2 separate regions of the Homo sapiens genome follow, and region 2 is linked to region 1. A link means that fine-mapping ties the variant in region 1 to the expression of a gene that starts in the linked region. Tissue or cell type: whole blood. Region 1 holds a variant in brackets; the other region holds the start of a gene. All regions are shown on one strand. Distances are from middle to middle.

What was found. PIP is the estimated chance that this variant, and not a neighbour inherited with it, causes the effect.
Region 2: MMP17 starts here. The variant in region 1 is fine-mapped to the expression of MMP17 in whole blood (TOPMed, PIP above 0.99).

Annotation. Positions count from the first base shown.
Region 1 is chr12:131,848,752-131,851,586 of GRCh38, reverse strand. It overlaps MMP17 (matrix metallopeptidase 17), which reads right to left. Exons shown (of 10, transcript NM_016155.7): 9 at 1,528-1,785; 10 at 1-662. The coding sequence ends at 313. Among named protein-coding and RNA genes, the nearest start is that of MMP17, 22 kb to the right of the region's middle. RefSeq lists an enhancer at 1-140. The variant T/C (reference allele first, on the strand shown) is at 1,672.
Region 2 is chr12:131,827,011-131,829,669 of GRCh38, reverse strand. MMP17 (matrix metallopeptidase 17) reads right to left here and starts at 1,277. Exons shown (of 10, transcript NM_016155.7): 1 at 1,017-1,277. The coding sequence starts at 1,175. RefSeq lists a silencer at 1,283-1,412.

The sequences.
Region 1 (2,835 bases):
GGGCCCCCAGCCCGAGATGCTCCCTCCAGGGCCGGAGGAGGCTGGCGGCGGTGCGGCCTGACTGGGCACCCTTCTGGAGCGGCCACCCCTCGGCTCGTCAGTCAACACAGTCCCTCACTAGGGGACAGCTCCGTCCTTGCCACCTGAGCCTGCCCAGCCCTGGCGGACAGTGCCCTCTGCTGGCCTTCCGGTGCCAGGGTGGCCCGTCCTCATCCCGCGCCAGCACCTCCCCCAGGGACTCCGGCACAGTCCTTGCCCTCTGTGGCCAGGCTGTCCCACCGCCTCTGTCCTCTCATGGGCTCGCGCTGTGTGTCATAGCGTCAGGGCCTGGGCCGCTGTCCACAGGGCGCCTGGTGACAGTGGCGGCAGCAGCAGCAGCATGGTGGCAGCCACCAGTGGGCCTGGGGCCCCCGGGGGAGAGGATGCCCCAGAGGTGCATGAGCAGACCTCGTAACCGTCCTCCGAGCGGCTCTGGTCATGTTGTCCTGGAGGGGCGCGGGGCCCCTCTGCCGCGTCCACGCCCGCAGCCACAGATCCATCGGCCTGTGAGTCTCCACACACCAGCCAGTCCCGGGCCGTGGACTGTGGGTACCCGGGTGCCACCTCCAGCTCGCCATCCAGCACTTTCCAGTACTCCTGGCCACGGAAGAAGTAGGAGGCACCTGAGAAGAGGAGGGAGAGCTGAGCTCAGGGGAGGGCTGCAGCAGGAGGGGCTCGAGCCGGACAGCGAGGAGGGAGCGTTGGGCTCAGGGAGGGCTGCAGCGGAAGGGGCTCGAGTCGGGCCAGACAGCAGGGGGCTTGCACAAGACTGCAGTGGGGGGTCAGACCAGACGGCTGGTGGGGGGCGGCTCGTGCTAGATGGCAGGGGGTGCCCAGATAATATCTGAGATGGGGTCAGCATCTGCTCAGCTGTGGGCAGCTCTGCAGGCATGGTCACAGGCCTGGGAAGCTCCAGAGGAGCCTGCTGGGGCAGGGGATGGACCAGGAGACCCTCAGAGTCTCTTTCCCTTACTGGATATTTATTGAGGGCCCACTCTGTGCAGGGCTGTTCCAGGTGACAAGGATGCAGCGTTGAAAACAAAACAGAGGATGCTGCCGTCCCTGGAGCTGACCCTGTGGGGAGGTTTCTTCTACACTGTGGGACGTGGCAGGGGTGATGCCCAGGAGGGCGTTTGGCAGGGCTGGGGCCGGCGAGGGAGGGGCTGTGTGGACATCTCAGGAAAGTGTGCCCAGACGAGGCATGGCCAGTGCCAAGGCCCTGGGGCAGGAGCGTGGCTGGGGGAGCAGCAGGGGCGAGGGAGTGCTGAGGGCGGGGAGAACAAGGGCAGCTCGTGGGCCAGGCCTTCGGGGAGCGACTCGGGGACGCCTGCAGGGTCGGCAGCTCCAGGCGAGGGGCTGGGACCCTCAGAGCCCACACCGACCGGGGCCGTCCTCCTTTCAGGGAACCTCTTGGCTGCCCTGTAGTGATGCCCCTCTCCTGGTGGGGAAACCAAGGCCGCATGGCCCGTCCCCCCAGCTGGCACTCACCGTCGGACCAGCGCATGGCGTCGTCCAGCGTGCTGGGGACACCCCTCCACAGGGGGCTCTGGGCGGGGTAGCCGGGGTCCATGTGCCTCGTGTGGTCATCGTAGCGCCAGTACAGCTGGTCCTTAAAGAAATAAGTCCTGTCAT[T/C]GTGGGCCCAGGAGAAGGCAGCGTCGATGCCGCCAGGCGGGAGGCTGAAGTCGGAGACGGGGCGCGGGTATCCTTCCTCTACGTTATTGTCCTTGAACACCCAGTACCTGTCTCCTGGGGGCGAGAGAAACAGCTGTGGGCCGGGGCTCGGCCCCACCCCGAAGGGCAGGAGGCTCCTGCCTTTCCTTCTCCTGTGTCAGCCGCCCTTGCCCTGGCCCCTCACCTGGGCTTGATGGGACAGCGGCCACACTGCAATCACCCCACATCACAGGGGCCACATGGATACTTAGTGAGCACCTACTGTGCCCAGTCCGGGCCATCCCATCCAGCCTGTGGACGCTGCCGGCCACCCCTTTACCGATGGAAACAACAACTCGGGCCAAACCGAGGCCCACGACATGCCATCCTATTATTATTATGATCATTATTTTTTGAGACGGAGTCTTGCTGTGTCACCCAGGCTGGAGTGCAGTGACTTGATCTCGGTTCACTGCAACCTCCGCCCCTGGGTTCAAGCGATTCTCATGCCTCAGCCTCCCGCGTAGCTGGGATTACAGGCGCCCACCACCACACCCAGCTAATTTTTGTATTTTTAGTAGAGACGGGGTTTCACCATGTTGGCCAGGCTGGTCTCGAACTCCTGACCTCAGGTGATTTGCCCGCCCTGGCCTCCCAAAGTGCTGGGATTACAGGTGTGAGCCACCGTGCCCTGCGTTAAATACACTTTTCTCCCAAGAAATATAGATGGCATTGAGCACTTGAAGATGGTCAACGTCACTAGAAACGCCCTCAAAACCACAATGAGACGCCCCCTCGCCCCCACTGTCAAGAACGTGGAAAGTCACCTGTGTCGGGAGGATATGGGGACGGCAGAGCCGGGCGCTGCCGGGGAGGGAGTATGAAATTGTGCAGCCGCTGCGGGAGACAGAACATAGGCTCCCCAAAACGTCAAAAATAGAATTACCACGTGATCCAGCATTCCCGCTTCTGGGTATAAATCCAAAAGAACCGAAAGCAGGGTCTTGGAGAGACGTTTGCACACTCACGCTCATAGCAGCGTCCTTCACAGGAGCCCAGAGTAGAGGAAACCCAAGTGAGCAGGCGAACGAGGTGCAGTCCGTCCGTGCCATGGAATGCCGCTCAGCCTCAGCCAGGAAGGAAATC
Region 2 (2,659 bases), 22 kb after region 1:
TGTCCACTGCGCTGGGCGAGGGGCCCTGCCAGGACCCCACTGGGAGACTGTCCGCGGACGAGGGCCAGGCCGAGTACTTGTGTGGGGCGGGGAGGCCTCGGCTCCTGGCCCGACTCCCTGGGTAGGAGTCCATTGAAGGCAGCGGTGGGGCAGGAGCCTCAGAAGGAACCAACGAACCCAGCGGGAGTTCACCCGGCCGCCCCAGCGGGGGGGCGCTGACCCCACGACGTGTGCTCTAAATCTTCCGGGTCCACAGGAGACGCGAGTCCCGGCTGCGGAACAGGGGAGGGGGCTGTAGGAAGAGGCCACGTCGCTGCCCCCAGGCAGGGTTTCTAAGCTGAGCTGGGGACAGCTACTGGGTGTGGAGTGAGGAAGGCTCTCCCCGCGCCCCCGGCTCAGCACTGTACCAGGGCAAGGCAGGGCCAGCCTGGCCGACCTGGGGTGGAGGGGAAGGAGGCTGAGGGCCAGGTCCTTGTCCAGTGGGGAGCTGGGGGCCAGCATCCCTGTGCCCCCAACACCCTCAACCGAGCAAACTCGGGGGCTCAAGGCTTTCGGGGTGCCCCCACTCCGTAGCCCCTGCCCTTCCTCGCTTTGTGGGTGCGTGCTCCTGCCCCCGCCACTCCCACCCGGAACGCACGCAGCGCGCAGAGCTCGGGGCGGCCGCGATGCCTGCTCTCGCCCAGCCCGGCTGCTCCGGGGCTGCTGCAAGCCGGCGACCCGGGCTCCGGGTGGGCGACCCCCTCACAACTCCACGGGCTCCTGCGGCTGCGGCGCGCTCCCAGCGCACGGAGCCGGGACGGCAGCCGGCGCCTCCCCAGGACTCGCGTGCGCTCGCCCGGTCGCTCAGCCCGCGTCCCTGCCTCAGTCTCCCCACCCAGGAAATGGGTCCAGGGCGCCAGGGCTCCCGCGCGACGCCGACGTGCACTGCTGGGGTCTTCCCGGTCCCCGCCACCCGGCCCGCGGAGACCCCCGGCTCCGGCCCAGGAGCTCCGCGCCCGTCCCGCCCGCGCGCTCACCACTCCCAGGCTGAGGTCCTCGGCGCGCGGCGCGGGTGCGGGCGCGGCGCAGCCCCCGCGGGTCCCCAGCGCCAGCAGCAGCAGCAGCGGCAGCGGCAGCCGCGAGAGTCCGGGCCCTGGGGGCGGCGGGCCGGGTCCCCGGGCTGCGCGGCGCCGCATGGCGCTCACATGGGCCCGCGGGCGGCGTGCAGGGTCCCGCGCCCTCCGCTTCGCGTTCCGCAGCCCGGCGCCCTCCGCTCTCCGCGGCGCCCCCGCCGGACTGAGCCCCGCGCGGCAGCCTCAAGCGGCGGGGCGGGGCCATGCAAATGTATGCTAACGAGGCCGGCCGCCTTAAAGGGCCCGCGCCGCCTCGGACGCTGCCACCCCCGCCCGCCCCGCCGTGTCCGCGACGGGACTGGGTCCGCGGCATCACAGGGAAGGCGTTTCCCCGGGTGTCTTAGGACGCTCTTGGGGCGGCGGGGACGCGCGGGATGGGCGCGGAGGCGGGGGTCGGGGCGCCTGCGGGGAGCTGACCCTGACTCCCCTCTCCGGCCGCGCTCCCGGGTCCACCCCCCACGGCGCCGAGGCCCGGGTTCAGACCCGGGTTCAGGCCCCGGAGCCGCCGCCGCAGCGCAGCAGGTGGGCGCTTGGTGGAGCCCGCGGACCGCGGGAGAGGGAGGGTGGGGCTTGGGGGGCGCGGGGGACTGGAGGGCGAGGGCGGGTGTTGGGGGGGCTGGGGTCCTCGGCGGAGGCTCTGCGGTCCCTGCGGGCCTGGGAGCGAGAATGTTAACTTGTAATGTTTGTTGGAGCGCAGCGTGTGCCTGGCACATGCCCAGGAGTTACATAAATAATTTCATTTACTTACAACATTTATGAGATGAAAACTATGATTTCCATTTCGCAGACAAAGAAACTGAGGCCCAAAGAAATGAAGTAACTTATGGGAGGTCCTGGAGCGGGCAAGCGGCAGAGCCAGGGTCAGAGCCCGAGCAGGCGCTTGTGTGGATTGAACTCGTGCAAGTTGCGTACAGGCTGCCCACCGAGTGGGAGATCTTGGGAGAGGGCAGGGGGTGAGGTTCAAGGGTAACCCTTGCCTTTATTCAGCTTCTCCTCGTGCTGGACAGCATGGCTTCCCCTCCTTCCCAGGCCCTCCTGCTCCACCACCCCAAATCGCAGCTGGTACTGTCAGGACTGAGGTCTCATTCTACGGACAGGGAAACTGAGGCTCGGCCCCTTTTACCAGAACTGGTCTCAGGGAAGTGGTGCCCCTCCCCTCCTGTGAGGGCCGACTCCCCCCAACCACCCCCCCCCCCCCCCCCCCGCTTCCCTGGGTACTCTGGCCCATCCTGTCCCTGCTGCCCTCAGAGCCTCCCTGGCCCGGTCTGAACAGGGTGATTCCACACCTGCTTCAGATGACCTTGGTTCGGACTGATGGGATCACCTGTAGGAGGTGGGGACTTTCACAGGACATCCCGGATTGTTTTTTCTTTCTTTCTTTTTTTTTTTTTTGCTCTGTTGCCCAGGCTGGAGTGCAGTGGCACGATCTTGGCTCACTGTAATTTCTGCTTCCTAAATTCAAATGATTCTCCTGTCTCAGCCTCCTGAGTAGATGGGATTTCAAGCGTGCACAACCGTGCCCAGCTAATTTTTGTATTTTTAGTAGA